Regions from separate parts of the Homo sapiens genome. Here region 1 is linked to region 2. The links come from fine-mapping of genetic effects on gene expression. A gene starts in region 2. The other region holds a variant in brackets. All regions are shown on one strand. Distances are between the middles of the regions.

What was found. PIP is the estimated chance that this variant, and not a neighbour inherited with it, causes the effect.
Region 1: its variant is fine-mapped to the expression of MTERF2 in whole blood (TOPMed, PIP 0.98).

What each region holds. Positions count from the first base shown.
Region 1 is chr12:107,070,632-107,081,545 of GRCh38, forward strand. The region is part of intron 1 of CRY1 (cryptochrome circadian regulator 1); the gene reads right to left. Among named protein-coding and RNA genes, the nearest start is that of CRY1, 17 kb to the right of the region's middle. The variant C/T (reference allele first, on the strand shown) is at 6,346.
Region 2 is chr12:106,981,753-106,992,666 of GRCh38, forward strand. It overlaps MTERF2 (mitochondrial transcription termination factor 2), which reads right to left and starts at 5,394. Exons shown (of 3, transcript NM_001033050.3): 1 at 5,217-5,394; 2 at 3,363-3,473. It overlaps CRY1 (cryptochrome circadian regulator 1), which reads right to left. Exons shown (of 13, transcript NM_004075.5): 13 at 9,612-10,249.

The DNA of each region.
Region 1 (10,914 bases), 89 kb after region 2:
AATTGTATCTAGCCACATCGCTGGATTCTCTTATTTTTATTTATTTATTTATTTATTTATTTATTTATTTATTTATTTATTTATTTTGAGATGGAGTCTCACTCTGTCGCCCAGGCTGGAGTGTAGTGGCGCGACCTTGGCTCACTGCAAGCTCTGCCTCCCGGGTTCACAGCATTCTCCTGCCTCAGCCTCCTGAGTAGCTGGGACTACAGGCACCTGCCACCATGCCTGGCTAATTTTTTTTTTTTTTTTTTAGTAGAGACAGGGTTTCACCGTGCTAACCAGGATGATCTCGATCTCCTGACCTGGTGATCCCCCTGCCTCGGCCTCCCAAAGTGCTGGGATTACAGGCGTGAGCCACAGCGCCCGGCCTGGATTCTCTTATTATTAATAGTACCTTTTCAGTTGATTCTCCTAGATATTTTGGGATATAATAATATTGTCCTAAAAACAGCAATAAATTTTACTTCCTCTTCCATTTTTATACCTTTTATACTGCATTAGTTAGTACCTCTGGCACAATAAGTAATAGTGATGACAGCCAGCATTTGTATCTTGCTCCAGACTTTGTAGAACTTCTAAATTTTACCCATTAAGCATGATGCTGACTTTTGAGCTGATTTGGTAGCCTTCTATTTCTGGTTTAGTACTAAATTTTATTAGGAATAAATATTGAACTTTATCAAAAGTATTTTCAGCATCTATGGAAGTGATCATATAATTATACTCTGATCTACTAATATAATGACATATTAATATATTTCCAATACTGAATTATTCCTGCATTTTCAACATGAATGTAGGATATACATTTAAAATATGCTTCTGTATCCTATTTGATAATTCTACACATTGTTTCCTCTTCTTTTATCATGTTTTAGAACAATTTATATATCACTGAAGTCACATGTTTCTTAAACTTTGGTAGAACCCAACTATGAAACTATCTAAGCCTGATGTTTTTTGTGGAGGTAACTCTTTGACAATATTCTTTATTCCTTCCATAGGAGTTATGCTTTGAAAAGATCAATAAAGTATAAAAACATCTAGCAAGTCGAAGAAAGAAAAAGAAGAAAAAAATAAATATCTATTAGTAATGTAAGAAAGGGACTATCATAGCAATTGTGGTACTTATTAAATAAAAGATATGGTATACAACTTTAGCAATACATGTGAGAATGGAAGACTAGATTTAACGGCAGGTATTTTAGGAAAATATGCATTAATAGCAAATTCAATTATCAAACTGACTGACAAGAAACCTAGAATAACCAATAAACACAAATGAAATAAAAAGTATGTCAAAGATGATCTAAGTCAGGAATTGTTTCACTGCAATGAACAGAAATCTACTCAAACTAGGTCATACAAACAAAAAAAAGCATTGGAAGAATATAGGAGTATTTCATGGAAACTTGTGCTCAAGTAGTATAGTCAAGTCTAAGGATTCTGGAATGTTAGAACCCAACTCCTTTTTGGAATTGAATTCTCTCTTGTTTGTTCCTTTCTGCATATGTGTTCATTCTTTTGTCTTTCTACAACCACCTTTCTATGCAAAGATATCTATTTTTTATGACTACTCAGTGCCAAGGCCCAATACCAACTGACTACAGTCTCTGCATCCCTTTTCCAAATTCCAAATGGGCAAAGCTTAGCTCAGGTATCAATTATTGACTCAATAAACCTTCCAGAGGAGAAAGAATGAAAGTAGATTACAGAGTCACCAGCTACTAAATTAGAGGCTAAATTCATGTATTAACTAGGGGTTTGATGTGGGCAGTTTGATGTGTGGACTGGACAGGAATCTCGAAATTGCTATAAAAATAATCTGACTCCTCTCAAAAACCCCTGACCCAAATTGCTTTATAGGTGAATTCTAGCAAAGGTTTATGGAACACAGAAGTCCTATGTTATTTATACTGTTGGGGGCATAAAAAGGATAGGAAGTTACTATAAGGCTAACATGATCTCATTGTTAAAATTAACAAAATTAGCTCCCAAAAGAAAAATATGAATTAATCACACTTGTGAATAGAGATGTCAAAGTTTCCATGTAAACACACATTCATATTAACACATATGTGCATATATGCACATTTATATTTTCATATTTTAAAACTACTACCAGTGTTGTATTTCTTATCTTCTTATGGGTGATATTACACAGACACTTTCTTCGTATCATTTGAATTCTTTACTATGATTGTATTTTTCATCAGAAAAAATCCACATTTTAAAAATTAAATAGCCTAGAAATGATCGTAAAATATTAAAAATTTACATTAACACTTATATTTACTTACCTCACTGAATTGGAAATGATCCAATAAGTAGTGTTGGAATAACTGGCCATCATTTTGTGGAAAATGATCATCATTTGGGGAAAAAGAAGTTAGAGTGTAACCTCAGTGTCAATGTAAATTCTAGATGGAACAAAGATTTATATGTGTAAATAAAACTCTAAATGTATTACAAAAACATTGTAAATATTTATATCATCTTTGGGTGGGAAAGGGGCATTGAGGCTTATCGCTAATGATATAAACCATAAAAGTTTGAATACAAAAAAGTTTAACATGTAAAATATATTTTTTTATTTCTCTCTCTCTCTCTTTTTTTTTTGAGACGAAGTGTCACTTTGTCACCCAGGCTGGAGTGCAGCGGCGTGATCTCGGCTCACTGCATTCTGTCTCCCTGGTTCAACTGATCCTCTTGCCTCAGCCTCCTGAGCAGCTGGGATCACAGGCATGAGCCACTGTGCCTGGCCTAAAATATACTTTTTAAAAATCATAATCATAAAGACTGCCATTACTGGCTGGGCACGGTGACTCATGCCTGTAATCCCAGCACTTTGGGAGGCTGCAGAGGGCAGATCACTTGAGGTCAGGAGTTCAAGACAAGCCTGGCCAACATGGTAAAATCCTGTATCTACTAAAAACACAAAAAAATTAGCTGGGCATGGTGGTGCATGCCTGTAATCCCAGCTACCAGGGAGGCTGAGGCAGAAGAATTGCATGAACCCGGGAGACAGAGGTTGCAGTGAGCCAAGATTGCACCATTGCACTCCAGCCTGGGCGACCAATTGAGACAGAGTCCGTTTCAAAAAAATAGAAAAGACTGCCATTCCTTTTGTCTTGCTATATGCTCCTCTTTCAGTATTCTCACCCATTACCCTAATTTTAATTATCACCTCTCAAAAGACTGTTTCCAATTAAAAATACACACCTAGTCCCAACTTCTCTTCCTAGCTTCAGTCCCTGCTAACCAACTGTATCGGGATATCCCACTGTTACCCTAACCTCAATACACCTAAAACAAACTTTGATACACCTAAAATTAAGCTTATCCTAATTTCTAAACTAGTTCCTTTTAACTTTGTTATGTCTCTCTTCATGGGATCTCAAAATATAATCAGTGACTCCTCCTTTTCCAAAAACCTACATGTCACTCTACTCTGATGGTTATTCTTCTTTTTAATTATCTTCCTTTCATTCAATCTTTCCTTTCTATTCCCACATTACCCCAAATTATGCCCCTAATTGCAAAAAATATTAACACTAAGCCAGACAATTAAAAAGGGTATTTTAACCTCAAAATTAGAATCTGACCCCATACCATACATAATACCAATAAAAGGCTTGGCAGCACATTCTCTAAGACATATACACTGTAGCACAGTAATTTAATATTAAGTCATTCTATTACAGCCTTTTAACTCCTGCTGGCCTACATCACTTAAAACAAGAAAACTAAATAAAAATACGTGTCATTAAGATATTTAATTTGTTGTTGCTGTTGCTATTGAGAAGACAGATAGGATAAGATAAAAATGGCAAAAGTAACCAGAGTCAATAGAATTCTCTTTTTTTTAAATAGCATTTTTTAATCTCTAGGAAACCCTAATATCCAATTATTTAAAATATGCAACCCAAACCAAATAAAAATATTTGAGAATGAATTTTATGTCAAATTTCAAAAACCTATCGTTATATCTTTTATAATACTAAAAATTATTTTGGTATTACCATCACAGAAATCATACAATTCTAGAACTAGAAGGGACCTTGGCAATTATGTAGTTAACATACATTAAAACTACTAAGCTGGGCTCGATGGCTCACGCCTGTAATCCCAGCACCTTGGGAGGCTGAGGCGGGTGGATTACCTGAGTTCAGGAGTTCAAGAAAAGCCTGGCCAACATGATGAAACCCCGTCTCTAGTAAAAATACAAAAATTAGCCGGGTGTGATGGCGCATGCCTATAATCCCAGCTACTTGGAAGGCTGAGGCAGGAGAATCGCTTGAACCGAGGAGGTGGAGGTTGCAGTGAGCCAAGATCGTGCCACTGCACTCTAGCCTGGGCAACAAGAGTGAAACTCTGTCTCAAAAAAAAAACAACAAAAAACAAAAAACAAAAACTACTAGTGATCTCCAATTTATCAATTCACACAAATAACCAAATGCCTTCTATACCCTGTGCAAAGCATACAGAGGCCATGCTGACTGATGGACATGGCTAATTTCAGTTTGACAAAAATAAAATAGGCTACTGCTTTCTAATAAGTCCAATTCCTATTCCAATCAGTTAAAGTTCTAGACATATGAAGAGTCAGTTGTGTTTCTCAAACACGTTCATGCCAGCTGAACTTATTTTCATCACGTAATTTAAATTTTATATAAACTGAGAATATAAAAAGTAAAGTTTTATAGAAAATGAAACTGAATGCTTCAAAAAGCCTTGATAAAAGGTGAATCACCAAAAAAGTTTGTCTAATTAACTATCTGTAGATAAGACAGCTAAACTAGATGGGAAGAAAAAAATGTACTAAAGGAATTCTGTATTCAAGTTTGCTTCACCATGGTCTTGAAGGTTTTAATCAACTTTAACGAATAATAGGCAATATCAGTCTGCGGGTGTAATTTACACAGGAAAGTCAACTTGAAATTCCATCAGCAAAATCAGCAGAACAATACTCATTTATACATTCAATACACAAGGACATACTGACACCCACCCTGTGCCACGTATTGAGCCACCAGACCTAACTATGGTTTTAAAAATATTACTCTGAATTCCACATGGAACAGATGGGAAAGGTAGGCACAAAAATGGAAGTGGAAAACTTAGGAGGCTTTTACAGTAATCTTGTAAAAAATGCTGGTGGCCTGGATATTATGATAGCAGTGGGAGGGTGTTATTTGAATGGATATGAGATTTAATTTGAAGGGAAAAGCTCTAACAATTGTTTTAGGACTAGATATGAAGTTTGAGTACAAAAAGAAGAAAGGGTAGCTCCTGGGTTTTTGCAGAACTAGGTGAATGTTGACATTTACTGTGATATAGAGAAGCCATGGGAGGTAGAGGAGATGGAGACAAAATCAGCTTAAGATGCTTATTTTGAATCCAAGTAAAAATACTAGATAGGCAAATCTGGAATTCAAGATAGAGGCCAGTGCAGGTAATACACGATAGGAAATTATCAGGTATTCAAGTATGCAACTAGATGAGATCACCTAAAGAATAAATGTGGATAAAGAAGTGAGCAAAAGAACTCAGACCTGGAATCAAGCCTTACATCAAAAACTATCAAATTAATGCACACTTTTCTATTTTTTTTTTAAATGATTTCCTTTTTCAAGTAACTGCAGGTTCCAATGGTGTCACATAAGAGACGATTTCTTAGAAACTCCCTTTTCAGGCTGGACGCAGTGGTGCATGCCTGTAATCCCAGCACTTTGGGAGGCTGAGGCAGGCAGATTGCTTGAAGTCAGGAGTTCAAGACTAGCCTGGCCAACATGGTGAAACTCCATCTCTACTAAAAATACAAAAATTAGCCAGGCATGGTGGCACACACCTGTAATTCCACTAGCTACTCGGGAGGCTGAGGCAAGAGAATCACCTTGAACCCAGGAGGCAGAGGTTGCAGTGAGCTGAAATCATGCCACTACACTCCAGCCTGCGTGACAAAATGAGACCCTGCCTCAAAGAAAAAAAAAAAAAAAAACCTCTCTTTTCATGTAAGTACACTGACTCATGTATCTTCAAGAAGCTGATCTAATTTGGATATGTGTCCCTGCCCAAATGTCATATTGAAATGTAATCCCCAGTGTTGGAGGTGGGGCCTACTGGGAGGTGACTGGATCAAAAGGGCAGGTTTCTCGAATTATTTAGCATCATCCCTTTTGGTACATCTTTACAATGGCGAGTTCTCATGAAATCTGGTCATTTAAAAGTGTGTAGCACCTCCCCCCGACTCTCTTGCTTCTGCCTTTGCTATGCAACATGCCTGCTCCCCCTTTGCCTTCCACCATGATTGTAACCTTCCTGAGGCTCCCCAAAAGCAGA[C/T]GCTGCTATGCTTCCTGAGCAGCCTGCAGAACCATGAGCCAATTAGACCTCTTTTCTTTATATATAACTCAGTCTCAGGTATTTCCTTATAGCAATGCAAGAACGGCCTACTACAGAAGCATTCTAGAATTCCTCCTCTCTCAGTCTCATATCTCACACCCAGCACTCCCCAACACATACACACAAACACACACACACACACCTCTAGAACTCACACTCATCACCTTTACCCCTTTTCCCACCCCTTTAAAGTTGTCTTTCCTTTGTGCTTTCACAATTGTATTTGCAGATTTCCACAGAGGTCCTTTTTAACATTGTATGTTCTAATTGTCCTTTAGTGGTGTGAAAGTTTCCTTACAGGCAAGAACCATAACCTTCATCTTTGTATCTCCAATGACTTGCACAGTACCTGGTAGATAACAGGCTCTCACTGAATGTTTTCCTGAATGACTAAATGAAGGGAGAGAGATTTACCCAAGGTCAGTCCCACGGCCATTTAATAGGAAAGTAAGAATTATAAAGTAGGTCTTAGTACAGTCAGATGTTCTAAACTTACTTCAGTCTGTCATTCAAAGAATTACATATTCAGGCCTCACCTTATCTATATATTTTATTTCTTATTTATCATCCTGTGAATACACTATGCTCAGTCTTGACTAAAAGTTATCTATATATTTTATTTATTTATCATCCTGTGAATACACTATGCTCAGTCTTGACTAAAAGTCTAGTTATCTAACCAAAATTCACTTTTCCTCAGCCTGTTCAGAACCTATGCCTTGAGCTAATTTCTTACCTCTCTCATAAAAAATCCCCCTCACATTCCAACCTGAATCATTTCCCCCACTCCCCTCCCCTCACCTGCTACACACACCTTTGTTAACATCCTATACAATCTGATTTCTATCCTTACACCTACATTGAAGTGTTATCTCAAAGTTCACCAAAAGCCTTTGTAACAGATAAAGTATAATTTTCAAAACAGTAAAATTATGACTCTCATACAAACATGAAATGAAGATCTGGCAAAAAATTTACGTAATTCATTGATTAAGGAAGAAAGAAATAAGATGTTAAAACTGATTCAAATAAGAATCTGATTTACTATTTCTCAACTTACAAAATTCATTTTCATGGCACAAACATAATTTGCATTGGTATGGGCAGAAAACATTTGTACTGCTTTCAGTTTTCTACAACTTAACTTTTATCCCTTTTTACAGAGTTGTGAAACAGCCTTGTCAATCAAATACAAAGATGCATATCCCTTAATCAGAATCATATAACTCCTGGAGGGTCCTCTAAACAACATCTAGCATTCTAGATATGCAATAATTTCCTTTTCCCACCTCTAAGTCTTTGATAATTTTTCCTACATAATTGTCAAAACTCATCCTAACCTGCCTCCTGTAGTGCAAGGTAAAATCACTCTTGCCACATTCAGTTTCCATAATATGGCACTCTCCTGGATCCTCTTTTTACCTCTCTGGTTCTCTTTCGCCTCCTTCACCAGCTCCTATTCATCTTAAACATAGTATTCGCTGAGTTTTTTCACTGGGCTTTTGACTAACATAACTTTTTATGGCTGTATCCAATCTCATCCAGGCATGCTTCATCCATTACTTATACAGGAATTATTCCCATATGCACAGATCCAATGTCTATAATTCCCAGAGTGAAATTTCTATTTTCTCCATTTCTCATGTTGATATCTTAGCAGTGCTTCAAATTGGTCAACAACCTAAACTCACTCTTTTCCTCACCTACCTATGGTCTATTTCTGTGTTTCCTAACTTAATGTCTAATTGTCACAGAGGCACAAAGTATGAGGATCTTACACTCTACTTTCTCCCTCACCCTCCTCCTCTGTGAAACTGTGTTTTCCAGGCAGTCACCTAAGCTTTTCACTGTACCTCTACAGGCTTCCTCTTATATCTTCCCCTTCCTCATAGCCTTTCCCCTTGTTTAAGCCTGTATTATCTTTCACTTGAACTGTTGATAAAGTCTCCAAACTAGTATCTTGACTCTCTCTTCTAACATTCACTCAGCTGCTAAATTTATATTTCCCCAAACAAGGGCAGCTTTTCTGAACTATACCCACTTATCTGAGTTCTTATATAATAGGCAACAATGTTGTTTTAGGATATCCACCTACTTCCTACTCATTTTACTTCAGTTACTTCAGTTCAGTCAAGCTGATTCCACCAGTGAAGCACACTTCAGCTAAGACAATCATAAACTCATGATGACTAGTTCAGAAACTGGCCCAAAAGAGCCAATGAAGTGCCATAAGACTTTTGCTGAGACTTCTGGGCCAAAGGTGTATGCTTTTTGCTGAGATAAATGCCATTGTTATTGCTATATTTTGCCACCAGAGGACAGCCTATTTGAGAAGTCAAGGCAGAATAAGTGAAGTTCAGAGATGCAAAGAGAAATGTGATCCTGGTAACATCTTCTGAGTCCTGGTATCAAGCGATGTCCAAAGCCAGTTTCCCTTAGGTTATTCAATTACATCTACCAATAAACTTTCTTTTTGCTTAAGCCTGTTTGACTCAGGCAACCAACTAGCAAACAAAAAAGTACTAAACAACATCTCCTATCTTTTCATGCACCACATGACTCAGCTACATCAGCCTCCTCACCACTATCAGAATACTGTGCCTTTCCTTAAGCTATTCTTTCAGTCTGGAATTTGCTTCTCTCTGCTTGGAATTCCCTTCCCTCCATGCCTTGCTTATTAAGATCCACTTTACACTTCAAGTTTCAGTTTAACTGCCTCAGTGAAATAATCACCAGAGACTAGAAAGAAGCAGAGGGCCAGATTACACAAGGATTTGAAACCATGCTATGGCTTTTTGAACTTTAACCTAAGGGTAAAGAAATGTCATTAAAAGGTTTTAAAGCATAAATGACATGACCAGATTTGCAATTTTAAAAAGATCACTCTACTTGCTGTGTAGCGAATGAATTAGAGAAGGGCAAGGGGGACAATGATTTGTAAGCTACCCAAACAACCTAGGCAAAGAGAATGGTGATATGGGCTAAAGAGACAATGGAGAGGGAAGAATGTATTTATGTAACTATTTTATTTCTGAATAAATCTTCCTCTGTACTATAAACTCCCTGAGGGCAGAGAAATTACCTGTTGACTATCATGCTATCCACAGAAATTAGCAAGTAATTGGCACACAGTAAGGACTCAAATGGGCAAATGGAAGTATCATTTGTGAAGACAGAAAACACAGGAAAACTCAGTTTGGGGTTTGTTTGTTTTTGTGCAATAGAGAAGGATGAAGATGAACTCTGTTTTGGACAAGCTGAGTTTGAGGTAATGTCATATATTCAAGCAGGCAAATGGGTATATATGATACATACAAACACACACACACGTCCGGGGATCAGGAAAGAGATTTGCGCTGAAGACACTAACTTGAGAATTCTGGGCATAGACGAGTAAATGGTAACGGACTTTATGAGAGGAGATAAGATTGCCTAGAAATATGTGAAATGAAAAGAGGGTGGAGATCACAGACCTCAGGGGCATTTAAAGGTTGAACAGAAAAGGAGAAGCTAAGGAAGAACACTAATAGCGCTGGCAGGAAAGCACAGAAGAGTCCTTTAATAAAGCCAAGGGAAGAAGAGGAAGGTGTGGTCAAATGTGTCAAACATTGTTAAAAAAAAATAAAAAAGAAAAAAAGAAAAAAGTCAGGGAATGGGCAGATTTAAAGTATCCTTTGGATAAAAATAGTTTTGGTAGAGTGGGTGGGAGTGAAGCCGGACATGCCTTAGTTTGGATTGGGTTCAAGGGTAAGTAGAATATAAAGAAATGAAGTCAGCCACTATTAGACATCTTGCTCAAGAAATTGGCTACAAAGAAACTGAGATACATAGTTGCAGGAGTGGAACACAGTTAATGCTAAGTTCTGTTCCTTTGTTGTTACAGGTTGTGTATGTTTTACAGAATTTGATCTTAAGCATGTTTAAATGTTGATTGGAGGCAACCTAAAAAGAAGAAAAAGTAGAAGAAAAGGTAAGAATAAATATAAAAAATGAGCAAAGTCTTTGAAATGGAGCACAGAAGAAGAAACTCGTTTTGAAAAGAGACAGCAGTATCTCTTCCACTGAAGTTGTATACTAGAAGGAAGAACTAGTAAGGATGTAGGCACATTTATAGATTTGGTTACTGAAAATTAAGAGAGCTTACAAGTCATAGCTTCAAATGTGTAATGAACATGTTGAAGTTTAAATTCTAAAACAAATCTGTTCATTGAGAATTTTTTTTAAGTTATGAGTTTAAGATAGACATTAACATATAAATTATATAAAGTAGCTGTCCTATCCCTCAACCTTAGATTTATAAGAAAAATTAAAACAATATTTAATGCCTACTATGTATAAGCCACTATGCTGTGGAGAACACAAAAAGGCTCTTTCCCCAGATACATGTATAGCCTGTTTCCTCTTCCTTTAGGTCCCTGTTCTCACATTCTGCTTTATTTCTCTCCATTGAATTTACCACCACCTGATACATTATTTTTGTCTTACTGTCCGTTTTCCCCCCACTGGAAT
Region 2 (10,914 bases):
TCAAGCAGTCCACCCGCCTCGGCCTCCCAAAATGTTGGGATTACAGGTGTGAGCCACCACGCCTGGCCTAAAAAATGGATTTTAAATGCTTCTGTTTCCCAAAATAACTGCTTATAAAAGCAATGCACATTCAATGTGGAAAAATTGCCAACTTCTGGAAAGTATAAGGAAATGGAAAAAGTCTTTCACAATCCCCACCACTGAAGACAACTGTTCATATTTTGGCATACATGATGATGTGTGACCTGAACACATCACAGTTCAGCTTGGAGTAAGCAGGAAATGCAGACAGCTGCTGTTCCCTTAGCCTCACTGTGCAGGAGCCTCTGTCAGTGGATGTGCCTTGCCATGGTCGATGTCCTTCTAATGTTTAATGATCCGTCATTCTGTATAATGTAACCCCCAACCAAGCCAACTGCAGCATCTAGTGCTTAGCCTGGGGTTCCAAACCCCAGGAACTCCTGGCTGTGCTGGACTTGCTGAAAGATAGTGTATTACTGGTCTCCTGTGTGTTACCTTCCCTACACATGGTACTGAGGTTCTGAATTCAGCCTATAAAGTGAAAATTACAAAGACTCAGAATTTTTCTTGAAAATCTCTTATGCAGACACCACACAGATGAAGTAGTTGGTTATGAACTGTGATGTGTTCAGATGAGTCGTCTTTACTAGTTAATCTGCCTTGCTTAGTCTCTGATGAGCAAACACAACTGACTATGGAAGTGAAAAGTATGAATGTTGTGACTCCTATGTAATGAACACATAATACATATATTTGTATCTAATTTATCTTTCTGCTTCTATTTTATTCACAGTAAGTATCTAACTGTGGTATTAAAAATGCTCTGTAAACATTTGAGTGCTTGGTATATGGGATGGATATACTGTTATTTTGTAATTCATTCCTTATATTGAGCATTTAGGCTATTTGTAATTTTTGCTATATGCTGAATAAATGTCCACATCTCATATGCTTTTCCTTTAGGATGAATTCCTAGAAATAGATTTCCTGACTGAAGAGGAGATACGTGAACACTGGGAAAGCAAAGCTGCTAAATTTCCTGTCAGGAAAAACTATCTCAGTTGACATTCTCACAGGCAGTATGAGTGATTCTCTCATCAGTTTTTATTTTGATATGTAAAAAATGATACAACACTAATTTAACTTCTTTTTATTATTTATAAGGGTGATGTTTTCATAATTAAACTATTTCGTTCATCTTTATTTCCTTTTGTGAATCAACCATTCCTGACTTGTAAAACTGCAATCGTTCTGCTTTTTAAAAATTGACTTGTATAAACTCTATGAATTAAGAAATATAATCTCATTTTTGAAAATATTTTCTTCAGCTCATTTTCAGTTGTTGATGGTATATTTTAGCATACCAAAGTAGCCCCTTTTTTAATTGTAGTAAGATATAAATAACAAAAAATTTACCATTTAAACCATTTTCAAGTGTACCATTCAGTGGCTTAAAGTATAGTCACAATGTTGTACCACCATGACCACTATCCCAAACACCAACTCTGTCTCTGTGCCCATTAAACAATAACTCTCCATACCCTCTTCCCTCCAGACACCAGTTACCTCTATTTTACTTTCTGTCTCTATGAATTTGCCTATTCTAGGTACTTTTTATATGTGGGGTCATATAATATTTGTCTTTCGTGTCTGGCTTATTTCATTTAGCATAATGTTATCAAAGTTCATATTACAGTATCTGTTAGAACAAAGCAGTTAATTTCACGTGGTCAAAGGAAGGTCAGGGAAGTTTTCCTTGATGATCCTTACTGCTTTTAAGTACCAGATGATCAGTAAAAATTCATCCATTATTTCCTCCCATATTTTTGTTTGAACTTTAAAACTTAGCTCCTTAAGTTCATTTGAAATTTCTGGGTGTGAGCTGAGAATCTAAATAGATTTTATCAATAGTTTACTTCTCTCCAAGTACCATTTTCTGAACAATCCTTTCCTTCCCCATGACTTATGATGCCTCCTTTATCATATGTTAAATGTAGCTTTTGTCTCTAATTTGCCTCCATCCTCATCCCCCTACTTTGCAATTCCCCAAAGGGGCCAAGAGGCTCATTTCTGGTCTTTGCTGCATACTTGGCTCCCCCTGCCAGACCATCCTCAAACCAGCTCTGGTTGACTCACTCTTCCACACTTCCCACCAACTATCTCAAATCTTCTCAACTCAGACCTCTGGCCTCCCACCTACCTCCATACCCACCTTCACTCACAACCAGTGCCCTTGCCTCCTATCTGTACAAAGAAAGGAGAGCAGCTCCTCTCAGCAGACATAAACCTATCACTAGCTCCCCTTCACAGCTTTCATTATCCAGTCACAGCTTTCATTATCCAGGGTCATTCCTGCTCCTGTGCTGAGCTCAGCCTCTCTGGCCTGAGAACTCTCAAGCCCTTTCTCAAGTGTTTGCTCCTTCAGGTGTATCCTCCTCTGATGCTCCAGCCATCACTCCACTGCTCTTCCTGTCCTTGCCCAAACCCTCTCTCTCTCCACTGCTCTTCTTTTCCCTGCCCAAACCCTATCTTTCTCTTCACCTCAGCTAATTCTTGCAGATCCTTCTTTCTCTCCATTTCCTCTTCTACTTATATAGCTTGCGATAAAGATAACTTTCATGTGGTTACAGCCAATGAGTAGTTTTCATTCTTATCTCTTTTTTTTGTAGAGAAGGGGTTTCACCACATTTCCAGGCTGCTCTTGAACTCCTGAGCTCAAGCGATCTGCCCACCTTGGCATCCCAAAGTGTCGATTACAGGCGTGATGTGGTTTGGCTGTGTCCCCACCCAAATCTCATCTTGAATTGTAGCTCCCATAATTCCCTTGTGTTGTGGGAGGAACCCAGTGGGAGATAATTAAATCATAGGGGTGGTTTCCCCCATACTGTTCTCATGACAGTGAATAAGTCTCATGAGATCTGATGGTTTTATAAGGGGAAACCCCTTTCGCTTGGCTCTCACTCTTTTCTTGTCTGCCACGATGTGAGATGTGCCTTTCACCTTCCGCCATGATTGTGAGGTCTCCCCAACCACGTGGCACTGTAAGTCCATTAAACCTCTTGCTTTTGTAAATTGCCCAGTCTTGGCTATGTCTTTATCAGCAGCATGAAAAAGGACTAATACAAGCCATGAGCCACCACACCCAGCCTTCCTTATCTCTTTTGACTTCTGCAGCTTTTAGCAGAGTTGACCACTTTCTCCTTGAAATATTCTCTCATTTGACTTCCTGGACACTCGACTTTTTTTGATTCTTCTCCCTTTCTATACTTCTCGCCACCCTCTATCTGTCTCCCATACAAGCTCACCTTCAAGGCTTGGTTCTAGACCTCTCTTCTTCTTACCTTACAGTCTCTCCCCACAGATCTTGTCCTCATCCAGATATTCAGTTCATCCACTTGGGATTCTTTCCAACTTCTTCTCAAAATGTGATCTTGTCAGTTCCCTGCAATAAACTTGCCAATGGCATTTTAGGATAAAGACAAAGTAAAATAAAACATAGAAATGCCTTACCATGGCCTACAAGGCCTCTTTGGGCTCTGCCACCACCCTAATTCCCATTTCCCTCTCCTGCACCAGCTGCATTTGCTTCCTGTCAGTCCCTGGTGCTCTACTGGTTTCTACCATGTGGTCTTTGAAGACTGTGGGCCAGATTCCATGCCCAAAATGCTCCAACTTTTAGGCCTAAGTGTCACTTTCTCAAGGAAACTTTTCTAACCTTCACGAATACATGAAGCCTCCTGTCCCCATTACATGATTTCATGGCACCATGGACTTTTACACTTGCGCACAAGTGGTACAACAGCTGCAGCTGTTCACGTGTTGTTTCTGTCTCAACACTACATGGACAGACTGGTCACCACAGTGTTCCAATGAACTGCTTCCCTATCCTTCACCCAGCTGCCTTCACTGCCTCTAGGAGGCATTCCTGGGCAGGTGGCCTTCTGTGTGCTCTTCCACAGCACCCTGCTCCGGACGCTACTGCAGCACTTATTATGCTCTTACAAGTTCTTCATTCTTCCAACCAGTAGGAATTTTGTTGCTGTTTGTTTGAAGTTCAAGCTGTGTATCAGGCATACTAGGCACAGATCTGCTAAAACAACACTTCTTCACACCTCTGTTTGGATCACAGATCAACTCAGAACCTGAGAGTCACAGACTCTCTTTCCAGAAGAAAAGACCCACGCTCACAACATTTCGCAAATGATTTTAGCAGGATTCATGGACACCCTGCAGCCCGGCCATGAATGACCTGCACTAGATTTACAAGCGTTGGGAAGGCAGGAACTGAACGGTGTTCTGCTTTATTCCCTGCACCCAGCAAAGAACTTGTTCCACAGAGAGACAAAATTAGTATTTGTCAGGTGAAACTGAGTGAACAAGTGGATGCGGTACATTAATGCAGTGGGTAAAACTGGGTTAGCAGAGCCAGACTGCCTGATTCCTGGACAACAGTTGTGTTGTGACTTGAAGAAGTTACTTCACCTCTCTGAGCCTCAGTTTGGCATCAGGAAAATGGTGATACTATCTCCTGGGTGACTGCAAAGATCAAACGAGTTAATACCATAAATCACTTAGAATATGCAGAAAACTCTTCACATATACTAAATCATTAAATCATCACAACAACTCATTTTAAAATGAGGAAACAGACGCAGGTAAAGGAACTTGCCCAAGGTTACTCAGCTAAAAAAAAAAACAAAAAACAAAAAACCGGCAGAATTTGGACTCAAACCCCACAGGTTGGCTCCAGAGTCCTGCCTGCTCTTAGCCCTGTGCCCCCACATATAGCAATGCTTTTGGTAAATGTTTGTTAAATCACAATGTGGGCTGTTCTAGGATGCTTGTTTCTTAAGCATTTTTGGGGAGTGAAATTCACTTCTGTAATACACAGTTATGGTTAGTATGGTCTTCTCTACACCACCACTGGTTTCAATAAAGTTCTTCTTTCGTAACACATATGCCCTGCTGCCAGTTTCAAATTGACCAACGTTTATAAGCAAGGAAAAACGAGGGTCCACGGAAGATCTCCAGGACCGATCAAAAGGCCGCACATTCACTGTGGGGCCTCCGCTTTTCCAGAGAAACCCGGCAGGCTGAGCTGAGCGTCTGGCGAGGCGTGGGGTTTTGCGGGCCCTGACCGCTGCGGCGCCGCTGGTGAGGAACACGCCCAGGAGCAGAGGAAGGGGGCGACTCACCCGTCGGCGTCAGCTCCAAGCAAGGCACAGGGAGTCCCGGGGGCCAGGCCCCGTCCTTCCCTCTCTCTCCGGCCAGCCTCCCCACAGTCCGCAGTCCCCGAGGCCTGGAGCCGGGATTTCGGTCCTCGGTCTCAAGAAGCTCCCGACAGTTCTCAGCAGCGCCAACCAGGCCATCAGTCCCTTCGCCCATGGCCAATCAGGGCTCGGGAGATGACCGCCAACCCCCGCCCCCCCAAGACACGCCCCCGCGTCCCAACGCAGCCAGTCAGAGCGCGGGACACAACTACGCGTCCCTCCCCGCACCACGAGGGCGAGTCGGAGTGGGAATCGGCTTTCCAGGCAGCCCAGCCTGTGCTGGCGGGGGCATCTGGCATTTTCACACCCTTTCCTTCCCAGCATTTTAGGAAGCGGAGTTCCAGTAGCTTTGACGCTTAGAAAATATAAGAAAAAAAAGAAGTAACAGAAACCGCTATATCTTTAAGATAGAGCCAATCACTGTTCCCAAAATAATTCAGTTAGGTAAAGAACCAACTTACAAAAGAAATGTTTAAAAAACCCCCAAAGTTCTTTGAAACACATCTGAACTCTTCCCCGCCCCCACCCTACCCCAGCAGTTAGCGACTGTCTTTAAAAGCCATTCTCCTTTCTCTCCCTCCTTGCCACCTTCACCTAAATACTCCCCTTTTCTGATAAACTGCCAAGTGGTTTCCATTCTAATTATTACCGGTGATGCCCAACCTCATACACTAAACACGTTAATTTCTCCTTAAAGCCAGGCTGAATGTCTCTCTCATTTATTTTCACATTTATCCATCCAAAAAACAAGTATTTATGGCAGGCCTGCTAAGTGCCAAGCATATTGAAACAGCAATGAGAAAATAGAGGGGGAATAAAACACATTCCCTGTCCTTATGGAGCTTACATTCTAGTGGAGGGCAGAGATATCAACAACTAATAACGTGACTAATCACACCTAGTTAAGTGTTATCGAGGACAGGGTGCCCTGAGCTGGGCCTGGTGATTCTGTTTGTGTGGAGTTGGAGTCAGGAAAACTGGTTTTCCCAGCTGGAGGTGTCTGCTGTCAGGTGTTCGTAGCACACTGTGCACAGTTCTGCCGTCGGTGGCACTGGCATACAGACTGCCCTCGCACCCTGTGGAGTGAATTCCTTGAGGCTACTGATTATTTTTTCTGTCAACAATGCTGGGCACACAGTAGGAACTCAGGAAATGTTAACTAAATCTTTGAGTCTAGTCTCACTATGCAGTTTAGGCTCAACAGGCTATATTGAGAGGAGCTCACACGTGCATTTAACTCCACTGAGTAGCAGCAAGAATCCTGGCTCCTCAAGATCACCCACCTCTGATCTCTAGGATATTCTAGAATGATCTGAGCAACTCATGTGTACAGCTGGGGGGTGTTTGTCCAGCAACTCCTGAGTTATCCGAATATAAAAACTCTATTATGCATAGATTTATTGCACACTTTTTCCTGAAATAAAATGATTTGGGGTCCAGACTAACCAAAGTGTGTCATTTGCACTTAGGAAAAGGAAATTAGGATACAGAAAAGGAAGTTAAGGAATGTAAACTCAGGACTTAGAACTGCAAGCTGCCATCACTGGTCAGGAGGGAGGGAGCAGAAATGTGCACCAGGGTGCTGGAAGCTTGTATTAGGGCTCCACGTAATTGTGCAAGGAATTACAATACATATGACCCCGTGCATTGTAATCAAAACTTGAAACTGACAAATCAGCTATGCCAACTGTATTAAATAAATGCTACTCAAAGTTTTTTCCAGCCCAAATATTTAAACAGTGCATTTCTAGGACCATATAATCAGAAAAAAAACCTTGAATGAAGAAAAGGGGAAAAGAACTTACAATTATGCATATTATGTACAAGAAAATTACAAACACATTTGAATTGTGAGAAGATCCTGAAATTTCTAGTATGTAAGAGATGCATTAAAAATACTGATAGACTTTTATATCTCAAATTTACTTATTTATTTTAAGCAAATATGAAAAACATAAGGACTTTGTACAGTTCATTCAAAACCCTGGTTCTCTCAATATAATTTTCCCAAGTTGTCAGTACAGTTTTTGGCAATAAGAATTGAAGAAGTATTTGCTGAATGAGTAAAATGTCTTAAATCCCTTAACCACAAGTAGGATTTCTAGTTAAGGGGAGAACACTGATTCGAACATCATGTATCTGCTCAAGTAGAGCATGATGACTGATGCCTTTTCTTTCCCTTTCAGTGATTCATTTTGACCACTATTTACACCAAACTGAAAAAGCTTTCCAAAAAACTCCCTAATAAAAAAAAAATCCTCTTACATTTATAAATAGCATACCAGTGCTTATGCTGAGATAGTGTTCTTTTACTGTTTATTTATTCACATTAAAACTGAATCTTTGGCCGTGCGCGGTGGCTCATGCCTGTAATCCCAGCACTTTGGGAGGCCGAGGCCAGCGGATCATGAGGTCAGGAGATCGCGACCATTCTGGCTAACGGTGAAACCCTGTCTCTACTAAAAAATACAAAAAATTAGCCGGGCGTGATGGCACGCGCCTGTAGTCCCAACTACTCGGGAGGCTGAGGCAGGAGAATCGCTTGAACCCAGGAGGCAGATGCCGCAGTGAGCCGAGATCGTGCCACTGCACTCCAGCCTGGGCGACAGAGTGAGACTCTGTCTCAAAATAACAACAAGAAAACTGAAATCTATGACCTCTTGTACGGTGATGGTAAATCTCAGGTCTATGAATTTCTCAACTCTGCACTGTACAACCAGGTCCAAAGAGTAGGATGTGAGGTACACTTACCATAAAAAACAATTAAAATATTACTTCACTTTAACAGTGGTGAAAAAAGAACGATAAAGCACAGGATTTTTTCTTATTCTTTTTCTCGGTAATGGATTTCCCACCTGCCGCCCCATCCCCGAGACAAGGTCTCACCCTGTCATCCAGGTTGGAGTGCAGTGGTGCAATCATAGCTCACTGCAGCCTCAAATCCCCTAGATCAAGCCATCCTCCCACCTCAGCCTCCCAAGTAGCTGGGACCATAGTGCACACCACCACACCTGGCTAATATTTTTGTTGTTTCCTTTTGTAGAGATGGGGTCCCAAGATGTTGTTCAGGCTAATCATTTTTTTTTTTTTGAGACAGAGTCTCACTCTGTCGCCCAGGCTGGAGTGCAGTGATGTGATCTCGGCTCACTGCAAACTCCGCCTCCTGGGTTCATGCCTCAAGTGATTCTCCTGCTTCACTTCAGTTTCCCAAAGTGCTAGAATTATAGGCATGAGCCACCCTGCCTGGTCTTCTTTACTTTTTTTTTATTTTTATATTGATTTTTTAAAAATAGAGATGGGGTCTTGCTAAGTCTCCAGGGCTGGTCTCAAACTCCTGGCTTTAAGTGATCCTCCCGCCTCAACCCCACAAAGTGCTGGGATTACAGGCAATGAGCCACCACACCCAGCTCAGATGAGGTCTTGATCTGTCCACCCAGGCTGGAGTACAGTGGCACAATCATAGCTCACTGCAGCCTTGACCTCCTGGGCTTCAGTGATCCTCCCACCTCAGCCTCCAAAAGTGCTGGGATTATAGGCGTGAGCCACCACACCTAGCCTCAGTAATGGAATTTATTGATCATTGTTAATTCACTATCCAGGATATTTTTAAAAATGCATATCATCTAAAATGTTATCGTTTCTGTATTTTTACTCAACTTTTATCTTCAGTTATCTTTAAATTATCATACTAAATATCTATCATGATTAATGATGGGAAAATGAAAAGCCACTGGTTATAATTCAGAATGGCAAGAACTAACCTACTAGAGAACACTAAAGGGATAATAACAATACTAATAAAAATAATGGCAGCTAACCAGAGCTGTGGCATACAGCTATGCAGACTGTGCACTGTACACGACAGGGGGTGACACAGCATGGCAGCCCTGTGGCTAACACTGAGTACCCTATCACATGCCAGCTCATAAGTATTTTACATGGAACTGAACTATAAAGCAGATACTACCCTCATCCCTATTTTATAGATAAGAAGAAAGAAGACATAGAAGGTTAAACTTGCTCAAGACCTCAAAGCTAATGAATGGCAGAAATGGGCATTTGACTCGAGAGCTCACTCTATTGATTGCTAGCCCATACTGCCTGATTTATGGTTACAAATGCCATTACTTGAAAAAAGTCCCTTTAGTTTTACCTCTTTCTTGCATATAATTTTGAAAAACACTGTTTAACTAAACATATGGTAGCTGTTCCTTCAAAATGATGATGTGGTTTATAGAATCTCTTTGTAATTTGTAATCATATATCATACAGCAATACTCTCTCCCTTACCAAAAAAGAAAAAAAAACACGTACACAAGATTTCATATTTGCATATACTTTAATAACAAGTTCATTTTAGTAATAAATGAACAAAGAAACAGAGACAGAGAACTTAACACATGATACTTCCACAAGTTTGGGTCTAAAAAGGTTTACATCAAAGTTTAAAACATATACTGTCTGTGTTAACAGAGGCTACAATACCAATTTGGATTACGCACATTATCTAAAACATTATTATCAAAGAGTGCAAAGTTAGATCAAACAACATCAAGAAAATTCTGTCCTAAAATTTTAACGTCTTTTAAGAAAGTCTAAAAACCTCCTTTTTTCCCACTGACTTCAAAACTTTGAGTTTTATATCAGAATATCAATTTGTCATTTTAACTTTACCATACATGAAAAATTATCAAAAATATATCGATGGGTCTATACTAATTGTGACTGTTTATATTTACATTAAGCAAATTCTCTTGCCAAGTTCTTTATATACAAATTACCAATTGTCCTCTGTGAAATTCATTAAAAAGTTAAAAACCACAGAAATGTCATTAGAAACAACATATTTCAATATGTAACTGCTTTCCATCAATGAAGAATATTTTTAAATAACTTAATTGAAAAGTATTGAACTCCCCACCAATTTCAGCTGCAACAGTATTCCTCCTGAATGTTTTCTGTGATTTAAGGGGGAAAAAAAAACTAGGTAAAGCTTGATTGCAAATAATTCAATGACAAAAATGTGATGAGTGTTTATTGACCTTATCTTCAAGATACTTATAGTCTAATTAGGTTGACATAAAAAAACTAAGCAATAAAAAATGTAAACAGTGTTAGAAACTGAAGAAACAGAAAATTTTTAAAAACTGGCAAATCCAACGTATAAATATTTTTCATATTAATTTAAATCACAAAATGACATCCCAAATCCAATTAAATTGAATGCAGGCAAGGCTTTCTGATACTTCTAATAAGGGCCAGCATTTTAAAAAATTTTGAACTATTCCCAAATTGGAAATAATTTAGATTTTAGAAGCATCATAACAGATAAAAGAAATTTATCAACATTTAAGAGGCAAAGATTTAGGGGAAAGTTCATAAAAAGATTATATTAATGTCACTAAAATAAACAGGCCACTTTAATTGTTTTAGACTCATAGTTACATAGTAAGGAAATAAAAAAGTTGTCTTTTTCTAAGAAAAAACTTGACCACAAAATCATAAACATCTCTAATTTAAAGAGCATTGGTTCAGATGAATATAAAACTGGTGCAACAATTTCTCCAGTACAGATGCATGTCTCTTGACCAAAAATTAACTGAGTTTGTAAAAATTGCTTAAA